Homo sapiens: one gene and its partners. The protein of the gene in region 1 purifies or fractionates together with the protein of each later gene. This does not show direct contact. Each region holds a gene or a part of one and is shown on either strand. Other genes may lie near its edges.

Region 1 (5,570 bases):
GCGGGGGTTTCTCTTATGCCCTCAGCCTTACATTCAAGGAGCTGGGGAAGGGGGCGTTGTTGCTGAGTGATCCAGAGCACTGGCTCTGTAGCAAAGACAGGCCGAGCTTGAGTCCCAGCTCTGTGACTTTCTGGCTGTGTGGCCTTGGGCTAGTTACCTAACCTCTCTGAGCTCTTTTCCACATCTGCAAAAAAGGGGATAGCAGCAGCACTTACTTTGAAGTGTTGCAGGCTGAACACCAGCACTCGCTGAATGTGGAAGGCCCTTCTACCCTTCAGAACTCCCCCTTGGCTCTCTTCTTCCCACCCTGCTCACTCCCTCCACCATCCCCCACTTTATTCTGGCCAAATGGATACACTGGCCAAGTTTTCGCCCCCTTGTGCCCTTTTGTATATGGGGTTCCCTGCTAGGAATGCTTCTCCTGCCGTGTCTACCTGATCTCCTCCTTCTGGCCCTGAAGCCTCAGCTGGGTGTCACCACCAGGAAGCCTTCCTTGATACTCCCCATCATCCTACTCTCTCCTGCCAGAGCTGGCTCAGTGGCCCCTCCTCTGAGCTTCCCAAGGAGTCTGATGCATTGGTCCTTCCTTTTTTTTTTGAGACCTTTTTTTGAGTCTTGCTCTGTCGCCCAGGCTTGAGTGCAGTGGCGCGATTTCAGCTCACTGGAGCCCCTGCCTCCCAGGTTCAAGCGATTCTCCTGCCTCAGCCTCCCGAGTAGCTGAGATTACAGGCACATGCCACCACACCTGGCTAATTTTTGTATTTTTAGTAGAGATGCGGTTTCGCCGTGTTGGCCAGGCTGGTCTTGAACTCCTGACCTCAAGTGATCTGCCCACCTCAGCCTCCTAAAGTGCTTAAATTACAGGTGTGAGCCACCATGCCCAGCATGCATTGGTCCCTGTGATGGTCTCCCCAGCAGAGAGAGGCCTCACTCCCCTCTGGGCACTCTGTAGCAGGAAGGAGGGTGCACAGTAACACATAGGAGGCCTGAGTCCCTGATTCCTAGAGAAGAGACGAAGGTGATTCAGGGCCGAGCAGGGCTCCCTGGAAGCCCCCTCTTCCTGCCCCAACTTTATTTTGGTTCTAGAATCATTCCAGTTGGCATACCCGGTCCCCACCACGGCTGTCCTGGGCACACAGTTAACATGTCATGCAGTTAGGGGGAGGGAGAGAGGGGAGAGGGCAGGGGGGGAGTCAGTGGCCTGCACCGCACAGCCACTGGGTTAGAGAAAGTCGGGGTCTCCCAGGCTGCAAAGCCTTGTCCAGCCATGTGTCTCCTGGCCCTGGGCTGACCTCCTGCTGTGGCCATAGGGTAGACAGCCTGGCCTTGGGGCTGGGCCATGGCTGTGTCAGGTAGGGAAAGCCACCATCCTGCCTCCAGTCCCCTGGGCCCTTGTTCTAGCCCCTCCTCCCCCCATATCACTGGGGATAATTTGTTGGCCTGGGTCTCCATAGCTCACCAGTTATGGACCAAGGAACAGGGGCAGCCAGCCTGAGGGTCCATGCTGTCACCTGTGGGTGGCCCCACCGAGCAGATGATACCCCACCTGCTGGCCTGGGTGAGCTCAGCCCTTCCCAGCACTCAGCCATGAAGGCAAGAAGCGGCTTCCTGGGACTGCGGGACACCAGGCTGGGGATGACAAGCTCTGCCTGCTCTCCTCCTACTGGGGCTGGGGGGTAACCAAAGACTGATGCCAGTAGAGGTGCAACAGCCCAGCCCCTCTGCTTCTGGGTGGGAGCCCCCAGGGTGCCCCTCGTACTCCAGGCCCCTGCCCCCACAGCGATCAGGCCAAGGCGATGGATCTTGAAGCCACACTTGCGTGGCTTCCTCCATCCAGCCTGAGCTCCCTTTCTTGATCTGGTAAGTTTCTCTGAGAACACTCACCCGCAAGAAACTACTTGCCCCAGAATCCCCCTCTCAGATTTCGCTTCTAGGGAACTCAAGCTAGGAGACCCGGTGTCGGGGGCACCCACCCCGTGATCGAGAGCCGCCTCCTTCCTAGCCTGGCATTCAGTCTTCTCCTGGCGTCCCTCAAGCCGCCCTTCCACCCTGGCCTTCCCCGGCTTCCCATCAGGCCTCAGCCACCTGGGCTGTCCTTCCGCTGCCACCCCTCCAAGGCCCAGCCCGAGAGCCTCCTTGTCCACCACATCTTCGCAGGCACGTGCAGCCCACCAAGACCTCTGCTGTCAGTATTCTCTCTGCCCCACCCCTGCCACCCCCAGGCTGAGACCTGCCTGAGGCATCTTTCTCCCAGTGGGCCTGCAAGGGCATCAACAAATGCTTGCAGGGTCTGGGCCTGGTTTGCGCAGGACTGAGCACAAGGACCTGGGTCTGGGCCTCTTTGGACCTCTGGTTCTTGCCATGGTTGAGGTCCGGGGAGTAGATTTGACAGAGAATAACTCCGGAGCCAGTGTTCCACGTGGCCGGTAGGCTGCTGCCCGGGCCTGGTCTCTTGGTCTCTTCTCCGGCCCCGAGAAAGGCCCTTCCTTGTATCCACTGCAGTGGGCTGAGAACTGCATTTGCGATGGGGAAGTTCACATCCTGCCATTGCTCAGGCTGGGCCCGCTGCCTGCGACATGCTCAGTTCTTTTCCTGCCCCTCCAAGCACAGCTCCTACCTTGTCAAAGAGGCCCTTCCTGTTTCCCTAGCCCTCAGAGCCCCCTGAGTCCACACAGCTGGGCTGCCATCAGCACTGAGCAGATCCTCCGGGGCAGGGGAGCTAGTCTTCCTGATGCCCTAAGGGCCGGGTCTTCTTCGTGTTACCCCTGCTGGTGCCTAGCACAGTGCCTGGCCCCCAAGATTCACTGGGTTCCAGAACATAGCCCAGCTCGGCAGCTGGCCTACCGGGAGGAGCAGGGTTGAGTCCTCTGTCCTGGCCCAGCCACAGCTGGTCCTCAGCAGGAGCAGACCCTGGGGCCCTGGACACAGAGCCACGCCCACTCCTCTGCTGCAATCTGGACAGAGAGACCAGGATGGGTCATGAGGACTCTGCCAGGGGACCCCAGTGTTCACGGCTCCAGCTGGGCTATGGAGAGGGCATCAGACAGAGCTGAGTGGGTACCGGGCTCCAGCAGCTCCATTGCCCAACTGGCCCGCCCTGGTTGCTAGTTTCGCCGGACAGCGTGCCACATGGACACGGGCCTGCGCAGCGTGGCCAACATCTGGTTCCAATGTGTGGTTCCCATGCCACTGGCTGACGGCCCAATGATGACATGGCCCACGTTGTCCCCACGGCCGTCGCTGCTGCTCTCAGCCACCGTCACGCGGAGAGACAGGTCCTGAGGAAGAGGCAACATGGGTGCTGAGGACCAGGGGCAGTCAGAGGTACTTCTTGGCCTCTGGGTTCAAGGTTACAAATGTCAGGCCCCAGTGGGGTGCCAGGCACAGCTCCCTGAATCCTCACCTCTGATCTAAGAGGTGAGGAGACTTGCCCCAGGTCACTCAGCAAATAAATGGCAGGCAAGAGTTTGAACTAGGCCTGCCTAGGCCCTCAGGTTTCTCTTGCTGCCTCCCTCCACAGTGGCAGCACCTGCCTGCCAGGTTTCAAATGCTGGCCTCCCCAATTCCCCCTGATCCTTTTTTTTTTTTTTTTTGAGACAGTCTCACTCTGTTACCCAGGCTGGAGTACAGGGGCATGATCTCAGCTCACTGCAACCTCCGCCTCCCAGGTTCAAGCAATTCTCCTGCTTCAGCCTCCCAAGTAGCTGGGATTACAGGCTCCTGCCACCATGCCCGGCTAATTTTTGTATTTTTAGTAGAGATGGGGGTTTCGGCCGGGCACGGTGGCTCACGCCTGTAATCCCAGCACTTTGGGAGGCCGAGGCGGGCGGATCATGAGGTCAGGAGGTCGAGACCATCCTGGCTAACATGGTGAAACCCCGTCTCTACTAAAAATACAAAAAAAAAATTAGCCCGGCCTGGTGGCGGGCACCTGTAGTCCCAGCTACTTGGGAGGCTGAGGCAGGAGAATGGCGTGAACCTGGGAGGCGGAGCTTGCAGTGAGCCAAGACAGCGCCACTGCAGTCCAGCCTGGGCGAAAGAGCGAGACTCCGTCTCAAAAAAAAAAAAAAAAAAAAAAAAAAAAGAGATGGGGGTTTCATCATGTTGGCCAGGCTGGTCTTGAACTCCTGACCTCAGGTGATCCTCCCACCTCAGCCTCCCAAAGTGCTGGGATTACAGGCATGAGCCACCACGCCTGGCCTCCACTTCCTTGCTGTGTGACCTTGGGCAGTGACTTGGGCTCTTGCTACCTCAGCTTCTCCATCTGTGAAATGGTGATGATAATATTTGTTCTGGCTGGGCATGGTGGCTCACATCTGTAATCCTAGCACTTTGGGAGGCCGAGGCAGGCAGATCACCTGAAGCTGGGAGTTCGAGACCAGCCTGGCCAACATGGTGAAACCCTGTCTCTACCAAAAATACAAAACTTAGCCAGGCATGATGGTGCTTGCCTGTAATCCCAGCTACTCGGGAGGCTGAGGCAGGAGAATCACTTGAACCTGGGAAGTGGAGGTTGCAGTGACCAAGATCACTCCACTGCACTCCAGCCTGGGTGACAGAGCAAGACTCTGTCTCAAAAAAAAAAAAAAAAAATTGGGGGTGGGCACAGTGGCTCACACCTGTAATCCCAGCACTTTGGAAGGCCGAAGTGGGTGGATCACCTAAGGTTGGGAGTTTAAGACCAGCCTGGCCAGCGTGGTGAAACCCCATCTCTACTAAAAATACAAAAATTAGCCAGGTGTGGTGGCAGGTGCCTGTAATCCCAGCTACTCAGGAAGCTGAGGCAGAAGAATCATTTGAACCCAGGAGGCGGAGGTTGCAGTGAGCTGAGTTCACACCATTGCACTCCAGCTTGGGCAACAGAGTGAGACTCTGTCTCAAAAAAAAAAAAATTGGTTTCTATCTCATAGGGCTGTTTCAGGAACAAAAAGAGTGAACTGTGTAGAACGGCACCTGCGCACAGTCAGAACATGCTAGAGGTTGCGTTGCTATTACTAATATCACCACGTTGCACTCACAACCGAGGACGGGAGAGACTGCTTGAGATGAGAGCGGGAGCTGAAACTCAAACCCAGCCCGATCTCTCTCCTCCTCCACTTCCCCCATGGTCCCAAGAAGTCTCTTGCTTTTAGAGGCTGTGGAGAAGTGGCACTATGACACCCAGGGAGAGGCAGAGGACACATGGGCAGCCTGCTCCACGAGGGTGGCAGGTGAAGGCTACGATACCCAGGATGGGCCAGAGATGCTGGGGTGTGCCCGGGTTAGGAACACTCAGAGTGAGGCAGATTCTGGGCCTTTACATGCTGGCGGGGTCCCCGGGTTGGGGGAGATTAGGCGGGTTCTGTACAGCCCTGGGGCTATGGAGGCAGGTTTTGGCTCAAGGCACAAAGGACTTTCTCATTGTCAGGAGTGCCGAGGAGGGCTAGAGATAGTGAGGGAAGGTGGTGCGAGCCCCATCCTCCGAGGCATGCAAGCAGGGCCCAAGCCCTATCTTCAAGCCCCACCCGTGGTCTGTGATGTCCCTGCTGGGAGAGGTCTCCCTGGAGCATGTCACCTTCTGAAGACCACGC
Region 2 (8,340 bases), on another chromosome or scaffold:
AGGGGAGAGAGTCAGAGTTAAAGCTTCTGAACTTTCCTAATCTATAAGATGAGGCCTCTATTGACTAGAATGTTTGTGAAGATTAAAAGAGAAAGTAAATTAGGACAAAATGGACTTCTGAATACATAATTTCTCAGTGTTAGGTCCCTCTCTGCATTCTCCCTGAAGGCTTCCTACTCTTTTCACCCAAGATGAATTCACTGTATTTTTATTTGTATTTATAAAATTGGCTTATTAGTTTTATTTCAAAATAGAGTGAAAGATGCAGTTAGCCAACTCAGATAAAGAGTAGGAGTCAAAATAATGTAAGCTTAGATTTAGATATAGCCAATTCCGAGACAGTCAAATAATAGATTTTTACTCTGTTGCTTAATTACAGGGGTTGAAACAAGAATGAAATTCAGCTCTCACTTTAGTTTATTCCCTGGGAGCATGAGTGTATTGTGTCCTGCCCCAAATATTTGGGAGAAAAAAAATAAGGGCACACTAGAAGTTAAACAAGTAAAAGTTCACATAAATTAAATGACATTACCTATCAGCAGTAGCTATCTGCATCTGTGTCTCTAACAACTATAAGATCTGGCCTTTTTCTTTTCTTTTTTTTTTTTTTTAGACAGAGTCTAGCTCTGTCGCTAGGCTGGAGTGCAGTGGCACAATCTCTGGTCACTGCAACCTCCGCCTCCTGGGTTCAAGTGATTCTCCTGCCTCAGCCTCCCAAGTAGCTGGGACTACATGCGCGTGCCGCCACACCTGGCTAAATTTTTTTTGTATTTTTAGTAGAGACAGGGTTTCACCATGTTAGCAGATCTGGCCATTTTCTAAGAGCTAATTGCTTTACACCTATTGTACCATCTAATCTTCCCAGCAACTCACAGAAGCAGGTGGTGGTATCCTCATTTTTGGATGAGGATGATACTAAGTTAAGAAATGCACTGAGTGTTGAACAGTTAGTAGTAGGGCTAAGATTTGGTTTCAGATTTTATTTCCAACTAGAAAGACCATTTTAACACTGTTTTGGTTATTGTTTGTAGAGAGCTTTCTAAATAAGTGGGTACCTTTATTATGATTAAGAAAGTAATTGACTATTTGGTAGGATTTCATACAGAATTATTGATAAGCACAATTCTCAGTTAAGGTGACTTTCACATCTTTCTCATCAGTGTTAAGATGAATGACTAATGTGGTGTACTAAAAGTTCAGGTAGAATAGGATAGGAATGCTAGGATTTTGGTACTCTTCACCTTCACTGATAAGGAAGGAAGGAAATTATATTTACATTTTAGTAAATGGTAAATGTGAAGTAATCTGGGCGTTGGAAAGAACAATGGCTAAGAAGTAGAGGATCTAGGTTCTAGGACTTGTCTGAATGACTGTGGTCAAGCTCCTTAATCTCTGAGCCTCATTTTTATATACTAAATGGAAGTAATAATATCTGCTGTCTCTGGGTTTGTTTGTGAGGGTCAGGTGAGACAGTGTGTTAAACATAAGGTGGTATTATTCAGAAATTTGGACAAAATTTGTTGTATTCCTGGTAAACTACAGTATATCTAGAGAGATAAATAGTTAAGACATTTCTATAAATGACATAGTATAGTGCATTTCTTAACCTAACATTTGATTTTTATCCCATTAAATATACATTATAGAAATTAATACAGAAATTTGAATCAAAGTATAATGAATCCTTAAATGTATGATACACTTGATGTATTGTATGTCTACCCTGTGGAAAGAAGTGCCTGCTAACTTCAGTTAGTCTGCACACCTAACAGTGTTAGGGTATCAAGAGTGAATAATATTTTCACTCCATATATATATACACACACATACATACACGTATTCCATATCCTTTGTTATATTATGATGCTTTAACTGTAGAGTTCATTGGTCAAATAGTATGCTTAGGGAAATACGTTTACTTTGAGTAATAGTTTTCACCAGAAGATTGTAGGTTATATGTGAGAGTAACTTTTAGGAGGCTTTTATTATTTAAATTACATATAACATATAGTAGATTAGTCTTTTAAATTGTTCTTAATCATATAGTCTTTGAAACTTTTTCATCAATGCCCTATTTTTTTATTAATTAAATTGCTATAAGTCTCTTCTTCCTCATCTATAAAACTAGGGGGTTGGATTAGATGATCCCTAAGCTCTTTCCAGCTCCAAGATTTAAGATTTTAACTTTGAACTGCCATACCAAAACAACTCAAGGATCAACCTGCAATCAGAGTAGTCGCTTGTTCCACAGGTGATTAGATCATTATAGCCCACCAAACGAAAATAGAGAAGCAGAATAGATTGACTGTCCTAGGCTCGTATGATCATTATTAATTTTTTTTTCAATTACAAAAGACATGACTTCTGCAGAAAGTTTGAATAGAGATGAAGGAAACAGTGAATGGTTATTGTATGCCTCTCTTCCTAGCCTCATGCTGCCCCCATATAAATAAGTTCAAGTATTAGATCCTTTCTGACCTTTCTTAGTATTTTTCATGTAAATACATCTCTGTGTGTGTGTGTGTATGTGTGTGTGTACAGATTTTCATTCAACAGCAGAGTGTCTACTATGTGCCCGGTATTATTTTAAGCAGCAGGGATATGTGGTGAACAATATGTTGCATATGTGGAAGATGAAATCTCTGTTACAGAGCTTACATTTCTAGGAGGGGAATGGACAAGTAAATAAGAATTTCACATAATGGTAGTTGCTAACACAAGGTATTGCTGGTAACTTTTGGGGGCTGAGGTGAAGAGATATGCAATATTACATAAAGGTAGGCAGACCTCTCTGAGGAAGGATGTTTGAACTGAGATATGAATGACTTGAGGGAACTAGCCTTTGATCAGGAGAAGAGCATTCTGGCAGAAGTATCAGCAAGTGCAGAATTCCTGAGGCAAAAACAGGCTTGTGTGTTGAAGGACCAAAAAGAATGGCCAGTGTTGCTGGGACATAATGAATGAAGGGGAAAATGGCATACCATGAAGTTAAAGGTAGGTATGGGCCAGATCATAAAGACCTAAACGCCTTGAGGGCCGTTGAAAGGAGTCAGAATTTTAAGTGATATTATAGCATACATATTCTGCAACTTGTTTTTTGTATCATGGGTAACTTTTCCATATACTAATTTTAAGTACAGAGGTATAATTTTAAAATCTCATTTTCCACTAGTCCCTTTCTCATCCTATAAAAATACTAAAATCTCTACCATTCTAAAAATGTTGCTCTTCTGTGCTCTTTTCTTCTCTAGTTGTTACTCTTCTCAAACTTTCTGCCTCTATTTTCTTCCCTGCCATTCACTCAACCCTGTCTAGTTTAGCTTTCTTTACCAGCCATTCCTCTGCTACCTCTCTTCTTCAAGTCACCAGTTACTCAATTTTCAAATCCTCATCTCTTTGGTACATTTAGTGCATTGACAACTCCCTTCTTCATGAAACTTTCTCCTTTCTAAGCTTCTGTATCACTACTCTCTCCTAGTTTTCATACTTCTGTCTGCCTGTTTTAAATATTGGTGGTCTCCACAACTTGATCTTTGGCTGTCTCCTTTTGCACACATTTCTCTAGGAAGTTTCATTCACTCTCCTTGTCATTATCTTCCAGTTTTGTATTTTTACCTTGGATTTCTCCTGAGATCTAGGTATACCTATTTGTTTACTAGACATCTTTTGGGTATACTAGAAGTATGTACCAATACCATCTGACATTTTCTTTATATTTACCTTGTTTTTGCTCCTCCTCCCTGTTTAGTTAATGGTGCTTCCATCCACCCAGACAGAGCTCAAGAGAGAAACCTTGGATTTACCTAGATTCTTTCCTTTCCCTCACCTTCCTACAAACCCCCAACCTAATTGGATACCAAGTCCTGTAGTTCTGTTTCCTCTATATCTTTTGAATCAATCTTTTTCTGTCCCTCGCCACTGTTCTAGGTTAGTCTCTTGCCTGAACTCTTTCAGTAACCTAAAATGGTGTCCCTGCTTCTAGGCTGTAGCTCTTCCAGTCCATTTGTCAGTACAGAGCAGCGTTTCTAAAGCACAAATGTGATCATTCCCTCTTGCTTAAAATTACACAATGGCTTTCTCTTAGTTATTGGCCAAAATCTAAACTCGTTGGCTAAACTGTTCATGATCTGACTATGCTTGCCCTTTCTACCAGTCTCCCTTATCACACTTACTTTCTAGAAAACTGAACTGTTTGCTGTTTTCTGAGTAAGTCATGAAATTTGTGCTTTTCTACCTTTGCACAGGTTATCCCCTTTTTTGGGAATGTTTCTTTATTTTGTAACTGTGATTCATTCTTAAACATGTCATCTCCAGATATCTCTGACTCTCCATCTTTTTACCCTAGAGTTTGGCCCATCATTTTGTGCTCAAATAAGACATTAATTGCATCCTTCATAGTATTTAGGACAAAGTATTATATTTGTGTGTCCACCATGCCAAATAGATGACAGCTCCTTTCTTTAGAGTAATATTTCTATAGGAGTAGAATACAGTGTTAAAGAGTACAAACTTTTTACTCAGTTCTGATTTTGGCTCTACTTTTTAAAGTAGACTATACTAGAGATATAATTGCCTCATACTAAAAATGAGATTGATAATACTATCTGAGGATGACTTGTATTAAGTGAGATAATGCATCTAAACTAGTGTTGTCTGGCACATGGAAATCTCTTAGTAGATGGAAGTCACATTAGTATCTTCAGCACAGATTCATTATTCAGCAAATATCTGTTGAATAAATGATCACATATCAGGTACTCAGGATATATGCACTGTTAACTGGTAGTATCTAACTCGGTAATTGGTTATCTACTTAGTATCTGGTAAGGATATATAAAAGAAATCTTATTTCTGTAGAAGCCTCCACACCACTAATAACAGTAATAGGAAATGGCTAAGAAACATACAGGATATTATGTGGTTACACACTTTTATAAAAGGGGAGAATTCACTGTAAATTCTCAAATGATCAGTCTTACATGATCAAAAGTTCTAAATTCAACATTTGGATTTTATTCTGTAGGTTGAGTAATGGCAATTCATGGAGGTTATAAAGCAGAGGACAAGCATGATCGAATTGGTCCTTTAAGAAGGATAAACAGGTGATGGTTTAGACAGTGATAGGGTTGGAGGGAAGGAGTAGGGTGATGACACCTGAAGGAGGTGGATAAGTGGGAATGGAGTTGGGCCTATGAATGAAATTCATTTGAAGAAAGACATATGGTTTTGAGTATAGAGAATAAGAGACAGATAGGAGTCAAAGATTATTCTGGCCATGAGCCTGGATGACTGAGAGAATGATAATATCATTGGAGGAATTAGAGATGTGGAAGAGGGATCTTGTTTGGGGAAAAGTGGTCTAGGGAAAATGAGTTTACTTGGGGCTTATTATTTGAGTTGTTCAAGTGAAAAATTCTTGTAGGCTCTTGTAGATACAGAATTGGAGTAAAGATGAGAGACTGGTGCTGAATGTGAGTACTAGTACTGTTTACTAAGGGAATACTTTTAAATGTTTGTTTTTTTAATGTGTTGTTGTTTTCTTTAAAATCAAGACCAGTTGTTACAAAGAAGTAACATGTTTTAATGTCATTGTCGTTTAAAAAATATTTTTACTTCTTAAAGTAGACTAGCCAAAAGGTCCCGAACTTGGTATCTAAAATGAATATGGGGAATAAGGATTTTGAAAAATAGCTGTTGCTCTCATTCTTTTTTTTTTTTTTTCAATATGAGACAGGGTCTTGCTGTGTCACCCAGGTTGGATTGCAGTGGTGTGATCATGGCTTACTGCAGCCTCAACCTCCCAGGACTCAAGCAATCCTCACAGCTCAGCCTCCTGAGTAGCTGGGACTATAGATCTGCATCACCACATCTGGCAAATTTTTTGTATTTTTTGTTGAGACAGGATCTCACTTTGTTGTCCAGGCTGGTCTTGAACTCCTGGGCTCAAGCGATCCTGTCACCTTCGCCTCCCAAAGTGCTGAGATTACAGGTGTCAGCCATAGCAGCCGGCCTATTCTCTCATTCTTGAAGAATGAAAGCTCCATGTTATGTTTGAAGTTTTACGAGTTGACTGCTTTGTAAGAAAAAAAAAAAAATCCTAGATCTATGAGAATATTCCCGTGAATGCCAGGGATTTGCATATACCAGTTTGATGATTTCAGAAATTAAAGTCTACTCTATGAAAATGTTTTTCATTTGAAAATTTTCCCTAGAATGATTTAAATTAAAAATAATGAGGAAAAACTTGTGAATCTCTACAGATATATCCACGGAGACTAGTTTGAGGATACACTGGCATAGCTATCAGAGAACCTGGGCTTCAATATTGGCCCTTCCACTTACTAGCTTTTTTTCACTAAGGCAAGTTGCTTAGCCATTGTAAACCTCAATATCCTCATATGAAAAATAGGTTAAATGAGAATGAAGTAATGTGTGTAAAGTAAAACTCATACATGGCACATAGTAATAATAATAACTAACCCTTACGTAGCATTAACTGTGTTCCAGGCACTGAGCTAAACAATTATTATTTAATCCTTATGAGGTAGGTACTTATCCCATTTTATAAGTAAATGGAGACACTGAGAAGTAACTCGCCCAGGGTCATGTAGCTAGTAAGTGAAGCGGCAGTATTTGAACTCAGACAGTGGCTCTTAACTGTTCTTCTAGATTGCCTTTTAATATGTATAAATAAGGACTTGATATATGTTCTCTACTATTATTGTCTTTATTTTCAGAAAACTGTGACAAGTATAGATTCATAAAATCCTAGAAGTGGCAGGAATAATCTATGAAACCTAACAACTTTAGGAAAAGTTGTATTCATTCAACAATTATGAATCACATGGAACTATTTATCCTTAAGGTTTTAGATTAATTAAGGGGGAGGGGGCATCTGCTATGAAGCAAACTATAATATATAATACATAGAACAATAATACAATATTAAAACTATTTCTAATTTTTAAAATATTTGCAGTCTCAAAACTGGTAGGGAAAGTGATCTTTTGATTTGTATTACCAATTACAACTTGTTCTTTCTGTTGTTCATTTTTAGGATATAAAGAACTTTTCATACATTTGATCTCCCTTTTTTGCTCCTTTTGAATAAACTTCATATTTTCCCTTTATACTCATATATGTTTTAATGGAAATGATGCATTTGATAATTTCAGGGACACTAAAATAATCATGAAAAATTATTTTCATGATTCCTAAGAGTTGGGAAGTTCTTAAAGCTTGCTTCTCCTTGCTCATTGATTATTCAATATTAACTTTCCCTATCTGAAAAATATGTTATATAAATGGAAATTTATAGCCTCAGTGCAAAGATAATTATATAGTTTGTAAGTTGTTTAAAAGAGAAGGACACCTTAAACTGTTGGAACTCTCCAAAATGTATTTGTTAATAAATAAGTACTACTAACTTGTTTGTGAAAATTTTATTACTAATGATATAATCTAAATTCGAATGAAGATATATTCTAGGGGTGGGGAGAATATCAGGAAAAATAGCTAATGCATGCTGGGCTTAATACCTAGGTGATGGGTTGATAGGTGCAGCAAACTGCCATGGCACGCGTTTACCTATGTAACAAACCTGCACATCCTGCACATGTATCCCAGAACTTAAAATAACATTTTAAAAAAGATGTATTTTAATCTTGTATTGATTATACATTAAAAATTGCTGCCATTTAATATGGGAACATAGCTTAATACTAATTGTGGAAATTGTTATAACAGTTATTTGCTTATAACTTTGGATTTTGATTTTCATATTTAGATTTATTTTTAACATAGATTTTATTTATTTTTTATTTTTTTGGAGACAGGATCTTGTTCTCTCGCCCAGGCTGGAGTGCAGTGGTGCAATATCGGCTCACTGCAGCCTCCATCTCCTAGGTTCAAGTGATTTTCCTGCCTCCACCTCCCAAGTATCTGGGATTACAGGCACATGGCACCACGCCCGGCTAATTTTTGTATTTTTTAGTAGAGATGAGGTTTCACCATGTTGGCCAGGCTGGTCTTAAACTCCTGACCTCAGGTAATCCACCTGCCTCGGCCTCTCAAAGTGCTGGGGTTACAGGTGTGCGCCACCGTGCCCTGCCCTAACATAGATTTTAAAGTGAACCAGTAACAGTATAGTTGAGCAGTAACCTTTGGATTTCACTGTTTTAATAATCTATGCTTTAAACTGCATCAGTTTATATATTATATATTATATATATAGTTAATAATATTCTTTATTAACAATATTGCCAAAATTTTTTTAAACAAGAGTTTACCAGGAAGAAAATAAGTTAGGTTTTAATAATTTATTTTGCATGTTTAATATCA
Region 3 (8,340 bases), on another chromosome or scaffold:
AAAACATGGTACACTTAGCACTGTCAACAGAACTCTGTGAAATGATGAAAATGTTCTCTATCTGCACTGTCCCATATATCCACATGTGGCCACTGAGCATTTGAAATGTGCCCAGTCCAAGTGAGGAACTGAATTTTGTTTCATTTAATCTTAATTAATTTAAATTTAATTAGCCACTTGTGGGTAGTGACTACCCTATTTGATACCACAGTGTAGACACTCGATAATTGTTGAATAAGTAAACAGATAAATGAATAAATGGATATAAGATATGTATTGAGTCTGAAGAAAATATTGGAGCATGTCTTATGTGGCACATGCCAGAAAAATAGTTGATTAAAACACACATCTCGGCCGGGCGCAGTGACTCACGCCTGTAATCCCAGCACTTTGGGAGGCCGAGGCGGGTGGATCATGAGGTCAGGAGATCAAGACCATCCTGGCTAACACGGTGAAACCCCGTCTCTACTAAAAATACAAAAAATTAGCTGGGCCTGGTGGCGGGTGCCTGTAGTCCCAGCTACTTGGGAGGCTGAGGCAGGAGAATGGCGTGAACCCGGGAGGCGGAGCTTGCAGTGAGCCGAGATCGCACCACTGCACTCCAGCCTGGACGACAGAGCAAGACTCTGTCTCAAAAAAAAAAAAAAAAAAAAAAAAAAACCACACATCTAACACAAGTATTATTCTCAAAAACAGCTCTGCTGTGCATGTGTAGGGTCAGGGGATATGTGGTAAATCTCTGCACCTTCAGCTCAAATGAGCTGTAAAACTAAAATGGCTCTAAAAAAAGTGTATTAAAAAAAACACAGTTTTGGATTCTATCCTTACTGACACCCCATCTCTCTAAATTTACTTTTTTTGTATCAAATAAATTCTAGTTTTGATGCAAACTTCCTACTCTCTCTTTCCAGAAGCAATATGGATACATGTTCACAATAAAGAAAAAAAATGTAAGTCTTTAGTTCTGGAACTACTGAGAGAAAACCCCCTGACAGGCTTCTAAAGTCCTGGTTAATATCCCCTGAAAAGTGATATGTTAAATTCCACCAATGCCTATAAAAAGTTCACATTGAAATATCTGTTTTCAATGCAAAAGTAATTAAAATATTTTAAACATTAACTGCTTTCATATATATTAAAATACAAAGATGCAATGTGCAAGAGAGACTATCATTTCTAATTAAAGCAATGCCTTATTTGTCAAGACCATAAAACAATGAATGGGCCTAGGACAGTGGCTCACATCTGTAATCCCAGCACTTTGCGAGGCCAAGGCAGGTGGATTGCTTGAGCCTAGGAGTTCATGACTACGCTTGGCAACATAGGGAGACACTGTCTCTACAAAAAAAAAAAAAAAAGATATATAAAATAAAATAAAGAATGCATGTAGTGTTCCTCTAGGCACATTTTCCTGATCAAAGGTTTGCAAACTTGCTCCCATGAAGACACGTGTAAGTGGGTTCCTGGAAGACAGCACACTTTCTGAGGGACACCACAAAGTACGGATATAATTTCACTGTGTGAATTAGGAACAATTTAAGTAGAAAAAATATGTCTATATATGAATATAATATAAAAAAATCACAACTACAGGCGCTTGTGTTAAAACTTTTTTAAGCTGTTAAATTAAGGTAGCAAGTGTTTCTACCAATTCCTAGTTACTTGCTTAATCATTTCATCAAAATTTTAAATAGAGATTATAACGCCCATTATCTTCAGTGTATATTTTCAGGCAGAGAAGAGAATTGGAAAACAGAAAAATCAAGATTATTTCAAATAATAGATTGACATTTGATTAGTCAATCAATGCACCTGACATTCCTAGATGCTCTACTCTTCTTATGCAAATGACAAGACTAAAAGACAGCTATTTTTATTCTCACTTTATATATAAAGAATATGAAATTCCAGGATATTAAGAAACCTGCCCAAGATTACCCAACTAGCAAATGATGGGCTGATTAACTCTAATATTAACATTCTTTCCCTTACCTCACAATACCTCCTTAAGTAAATGTAACCAAATCTTAAAGCAGTTTTTCTCAACCCAGGTGGTATATTAGATTCACCTTGAGAAGAGTCCCAATTATTTGCATTTTTCTAAAGGTCCCCAAGTGATTTAGATACACAAAGGTTGAAAACCTCTGATTTAAAATTATCATTAATGGCCAGGCATGGTGGCTCACGCCTGTAATCCCAGCACTTTGAGAGGCTGAGGTGGGTGGATCACATGAGGCCAGGAGTTTGAGACCAGCTTGGCAAACATGGTGAAACCCTGTCTCTACTAAAAATACAAAAATTAGCCGGGCATGGTGGTGCGCACCTGTAATCCCAGCTACTCGGGAGGCTAAGGCATGAGAATCGCTTGAACCTGGGAGGTGGAGGTTGAAGTGAGCTGAGATCATGCCACTGCACTCCAGCCTGGGCAACAGAGTGAGACTCTGTCTCAAAAAAAAAAAAAAAAAAAAAAAGATTATCATTTCATTAACATAAATTTTTAGACTATGTAATAAAACAGTTTTAACAACATATGTAGAACTGTTTACCACTATAGAAACTGTCTGTAGAAATTTTGAGTTATTGAGTCTATCTTTATTAAATTTCCTCTCTCCTGCTTCACTGTCAAGATGCCAGATATAACTGATTATTGTCATAATGTGCCCACATCTAACAACACACCCCACCCACCATTCCAATTTGCTGTTATCTACTGTGTTCTGAGACAAGTGAGAACCATGCAAATGAGAACAGTGTGTAAAATAAAAGCTAACAGGCTTTATGTGAGAGCCTATCTTATCAGTAAAGTACAGGTGCTTTTAGCACATGAACTTAGTGATATCAAATTTGGTTGCTCAAGAACTTCTTCTGTTTAATTTCTGATTCTTAGCTTTGTTCCTAATTCTTAACCTTGTACATAGTTCCTGATTCTTCACTCCTGATTCTATACAACCGTACCTAAACTATTATCTCACTGGGAAATAATTTTTCCTTTATGCCTGCCTCTCTAACTAGATTACGAACTCCTTGAGTTCAGGGGCTATGTTTAGTCATCTTTGTACTCCAGTGCTATCATAGAGTCATCGACACAGCAAACCCTCAATAAATGTTTGCCTCTTAAATGACTCATGGAGGCTGCCCTGAGTGAAGTTTAATGATAAATGGTCATTTGTGGCAATATATACAGAACCTTTCATTAAGTAACAATGAGCTCTGAGCCACAGCATTCCAGGGTGTTAGGACTTTGGTGAGGTCGCCACAGTGGCACAGTCTATGTGTTCCTCAGCTCTATTGCTAACTTGTTTCAATTAATTCAACCTACCAAGTATTTATTGGCTCTGACCACTTGGGATACAGTGATAGACAAGAATTATCAGATCACTCTGCCACCCACATACATTTAAATGCTTTTACCTCTCTCCATCCTCTTGCAACCACAACCATCTCTCTATTGAGGTACAGTCATTGACTTACAATGGTACAACTTATGATTTTTCAGCTTTATGATGGTGCAAAAGTGATGCACATTCAGTAGAAAGTATACCGTGAGTATCCACACAACCATTCTGTTTTTCACTTTCAGTACAGTATTCAATAAATTACATGAGATATTCAATACTTTATTATAAAATATGCCTTCTGTTAGGTGGTTTTGCACAACAGTAGGCTAATGTAAATGTTCTGAGCACCTTTAAAGTAGGCTAGGCTAAGCTATGACATTTGTTAGGTTAGGTGTATTAAATGCATTTTCAACTTATGATATTTCAATTTACATAACCCATCATAAGTCAAGGAGCATCTCTAGTTCAATTACTCTTCCTGCTTTCTTTTTCATTCCTCTCCAATTCTTTTTCCACAATCCCACCAAAGTGAGCTTTCTTTAAGAAGCAGTTCTGGCTGGGCACGATGGCTCATGCCTGTAACCCCAGCACTTTGAGAGGCCGAGGCAGGTGGACTACTTGAGGCCAGGGATTCGAGACCAGCCTGGCCAACATGGTGAAACCCCGTCTCTACTAAAAAATACAAAAACTAGCTGGGCATGGTGCCACATGCCTGTAATCCCAGCTACTTGGGAGGCTGAGGCAGGAGAATTGCTTGAACCTGGGAGGCGGAGGTTGTAGTGAGCCGAGATAGCGCCACTGCACTCCGGCCTGGGTGACAGAGTGAGACTCTGTTTCAAAAAAAAAAAAAATTAAAAAGCAGTTCCAACCTTTTCACTCTTCAAAACCTTTCAAAGCCTTCCTTCTGCCCTGAGGGTAATGCCTAAACCCTCTAAAATAGCTTAACAGACTCAGCTTGATCTAGCTCTCCAGCCATACAGCTCACCATTCACTCCCTAATTGTCTTTAGCCATATTAACTAACCTACATGGAAGTCCATAATTAGACCATGTCGTCTTCAAGTGAGAAACTATGCGCAGGTCTGTCAAGAAAATTCCATAAGCATTAAACAAACTCAAATTATGGATTTAGGTCTCCAAATTTAGTACATTTCTTAAGGGCAGTTGTTGATTACTATAATCATCCAAACAGTGTTTCCTCTTCTGGAAAGGAAAAGAAAGTCGAGGCTGGCATGGTACTCATGCCTGCAATCCCAACACTCTGGGAGGCCAAAGCAGGAGGATCGCTTGAGCCCAGGTGTTCAAGACCAGCCTGGGCAACATAGTGAGACCTCCATCTCTATTTCAGTAACGTTTAAAAAGAAAAAAAAAAAAGAAAAGCAAGCCAAAAATACAAATGAATTGGGCTGCTAGAAGAAGGCAAGGCTGAAAACATAAGCTTCTTGAGAAAATGTACCAAAGTCTCTGTATCTGGTGTCTGATGCCTATTATCGTCTGCACATAGTGGCTGCTCAAATTTTTGTTGAATGAATGAATGAATGATGAATGAATGAATGAATGACCAAAGTGAATGGGAAATGAGAAAATCTGGGGACAGAATCCAGAAATAAAAAGGAGGGTAGGCATGTGTCCCAATTCTGACCAAAAAAGATTCCAGGAAATGGTTGTTAGAGGTTTCTGGCAAGGCTCTTCTCCATTCTTAGAAGAGAGTCATGGAAAGCCTTTCTGTCTCCTACGGGACATAAGTGAATATATATGCTGCCCTGGTTGCTACTGTCTGCTGTTTTTCTTCTCTTTTTTTTTTTTTCTTTGAGACAGGGTCTCACTCTGTCCCCCAGGCTGGAGTACAATGGCGTGATCCCAGCTCACTGCATTCTCTACCTCCCCAGGCTCCAGTGATCCTCCCACTTCAGCCTCCTGGGAAGCAAGGACTACAGGTGCATGCTACCATGCCTGGCTAATTTTTATATTTTTTTGTAGAGACAGAGTTTCACCATGTTGCACAGGTTGGTCTCGAACTCTTGAGCTCGTGCAATCCACCTGCCTCCGCCTCCCAAAGTGCTGAGATTACAGGCGTGAGCCACCATGCCCGGCAGTCTGCTGTTTTTCAACCATTAAGTAAACTGACACTGTGGACAACAGACAGGAGAGACAGAGCCTCTCATCCTGTCAGCCAGTGTTGAACTTGTAGTCCTTCTACCCCTGGACTTCCAGGTATGTGAGCATTCTTATTGTTTAAGTCAATGTGGGCTGTTATTTGCAGCCCAAAGCCTCTTAACTAATACATATCTGAGAAGCAATAAAAAGAAAATTTAGGCCAGGCATGGTGGCTCACGCCTGTAATTCCAGCACTTTGGGAGGCCAACGTGGGTAGACCACAAGGTCAGGAGATCGAGACCATCCTGGCTAACACAGTGAAACCCCATCTCTATTAAAAATACAAAAAATTAGCCAGGCATGGTGGCATGTGCCTGCAGTCCCAGCTACTCAGGAGGCTGAGGCAGGAGAATCACTTGAACCCGGGAGGCAGAGGATGCAGTGAGCTGAGACAGCGCCACTGCACTCCAGCCTGGGCAACAGAGCAAGACTCTGTCTCAAAAAAAAAAAAAAAAAGAAAATGTAAATATTTTAAAAATGAGGCCAGGCACAGTGGCTCACATCTGTAATCCCAGCATTTTGAGATGCCAAGGCAGGAGGATTGCTTGAACCCAGGAATTGAAGGTTATAGTGAGCTATGATCGCACCACTGTACTCCAGCCTGGGTGACAGAGTGAGACTCTGTCTCTAAAGAAAAAAATTTTTTAATAAGAAAATCATGTTGAAGATAATGAACATAACATGCCATTATTTAATTTTGTAGCTTCATCAAAAACTAATCTCAAAAAAATAGCAAAATGAATCACTGCTATAAAGAAATATAGACCTTCTGTGCAACTGGTATAGCTAAAAGTATATAAAATAATTCAGATGTACTATCTGTGAAAAAAGATGTCAAACTTTCACTGGATAGAACAGTAGATTAAACACTACAGAAAAAAATACTAACAAATTTGAAAGCAGCAAAAAAATATACGAATGAAACACAGAGAGAAAAAAGACTGGAAAAAAAATGAACATCAGTGAGCTGTGGGAAAACATCACATAGTTCAATATACATGTTACTGGAGTCCCCAGAGGAAAAGCAGGGGAGAACAACAACAACAAAAATCTGAAGAAGTAATGGACAAAATGTTTCCAAATTTGATTAAAACTACAAATCCATAGATCCAAGAATCAACAAATCACAAGCACAAGAATCAGGTAAGCAGGGCACGGTGACCCATGCCAGTAATCCCAGCACTTTGGGAGGCCGAGGCAGGAGGATAGGTTGAGCTCAGCAGTTTGAGACCAGCTTGAGCAACACTGCGAGACCTCACTTCTACTAAAAATCAAAAAAATTAGCCAGGTATGATGGCATATGCCTGTAGTCCCAGTTACTCGGGAGGCTGAGGCAGGAAGATAGCTTGAGCCCAGGAGATTGAGGCTGCAGCGGGCTATGATTGCACCATTGCACTCCAACCTGGGAGATGCGCGAGATAGTCTCAAAAAAAAAAAAAAACAAATAAAATCATGTAGAAAACAACATCAAAGCACATCACAATCAAATTGCTTAAAACCAGTGATAAACAGAAAATTCTAAAAGTATTCAGAGGAAAAAGATACATTCTATACAGAGAGAACAAAGATTAAAAGGACAGCAGACATCTCAGAAAGAATGCAAGCCAAAAGACAGTGAAGCATCATCTTTAAAGTAATGAAAGGAAAAAAAATGATCAACCTAGAGTTCTATACCCAATGAACATTTCTTTCAAAAGGAAAGCAAAATAGGGACTTTTTCAGTCATATAAAAGTTGAAAGAATTTATCACCGCATACTTGCTCTACTAGAAATGCTAGAGAATGTTCTTGAGGTAAAAGCAAATATGGAAATATGGATCCAGATGGAAATATGGATCTACACAAAGGAATGAAGCAGACCAGAAATGGTAAATATAGACAAAAGTGACTCCATCTTGGATGTTAATCTGCCACATTGACTTCTGACTAGCCTCAGTCCCGTAAATGCCTCTTGATTCCTGCTTTATTTACTACTGTAAGAACATGTCAACCTTGGTGTTGGCACACAAATGACAGGATATGGCACATGCAGCATTCTTACCTGTTCTGGAGGGCTGTCTTTAATTGTCTTGCACAGGGTGCATATACCATCTCCCTGTACTATATAAGCCCTGGGTCTGGGGAGTAACAGTATGGAGATCTATCTGTCTTGCAGCTACCCAGGGCCACGCTTCTGTCTGCAAATTCCCTCAATAAATCAATGAATACCAACGAACAATTTGCCTGCCTCCTCCTTTGGTTTCTCCGTCCCTTCAGCATTCAAGGGTCACTTTGCTTATATGACCCTTTCAGGCAACAATATGGTTAAATACATAAGCCTTTTTTTCTTATATTGAAAATCTCTTCAAAAGACAATTGACTAACACAAAAATAATAACAATATATTGTGGAGCTTATAACATGTAGAAATAAAATACATGACAGTAGCAGAAAGACCAAGGGGAAGGGAGGAATGAAAGTATACTGTTGTTAGGTTCTTGTTCTAGATGTGAAGAGGAGTAATATTACTTGAAGGAAGATTGTGATAATTAAAGATGACACTATAAACTTTAAAGTAACCACTAAAAAAAGAAGAAGTTATATCTAATAAGCCAACATGAGAGATAAAATGGAAACATAAAAACTGTGCTCAACTGAAAAGAAGAGGGAAAAAGAGGAAAAAGAACAAGAACAAATGTGACAAATGAAAAACACATAGCAAGATTAAAACTAAACATACTAAATAATCAGATTAAATATAAATGGCCCGAACACCCCAATTAACTGCAGAGATAGTCAGATTGGATAAAAAAACAAGACCCAACCAAACACTGACTACAAGAAGCCCACTTATATAAAGACACCAAT

What was found. The genes of interacting proteins can lie anywhere in the genome.
Region 2: the proteins of SYT12 (region 1) and LEMD3 purify together in Homo sapiens (affinity purification with mass spectrometry; 2 studies listed by BioGRID and IntAct, with this or other methods). This does not show direct contact.
Region 3: the proteins of SYT12 (region 1) and ENTPD7 purify together in Homo sapiens (affinity purification with mass spectrometry; 2 studies listed by BioGRID and IntAct, with this or other methods). This does not show direct contact.

What each region holds. Positions count from the first base shown.
Region 1 is NC_000011.10:67,046,292-67,051,861, reverse strand, and holds the end of SYT12 (synaptotagmin-12), read right to left. Parts: intron 3,279-5,570; coding exon 3,105-3,278; 3' UTR 999-3,104; downstream 1-998. UniProt on the Homo sapiens protein: Synaptic vesicle phosphoprotein that enhances spontaneous neurotransmitter release but does not effect induced neurotransmitter release. Unlike other synaptotagmins, it does not bind Ca(2+) or phospholipids.
Region 2 is NC_000012.12:65,172,135-65,180,474, forward strand, and holds part of LEMD3 (inner nuclear membrane protein Man1), read left to right. Parts: intron 1-8,340.
Region 3 is NC_000010.11:99,662,061-99,670,400, reverse strand, and holds part of ENTPD7 (ectonucleoside triphosphate diphosphohydrolase 7), read right to left. Parts: intron 1-8,340. UniProt on the Homo sapiens protein: Catalyzes the hydrolysis of nucleoside triphosphates and diphosphates in a calcium- or magnesium-dependent manner. Preferentially hydrolyzes nucleoside 5'-triphosphates, with substrate preference for UTP > GTP > CTP.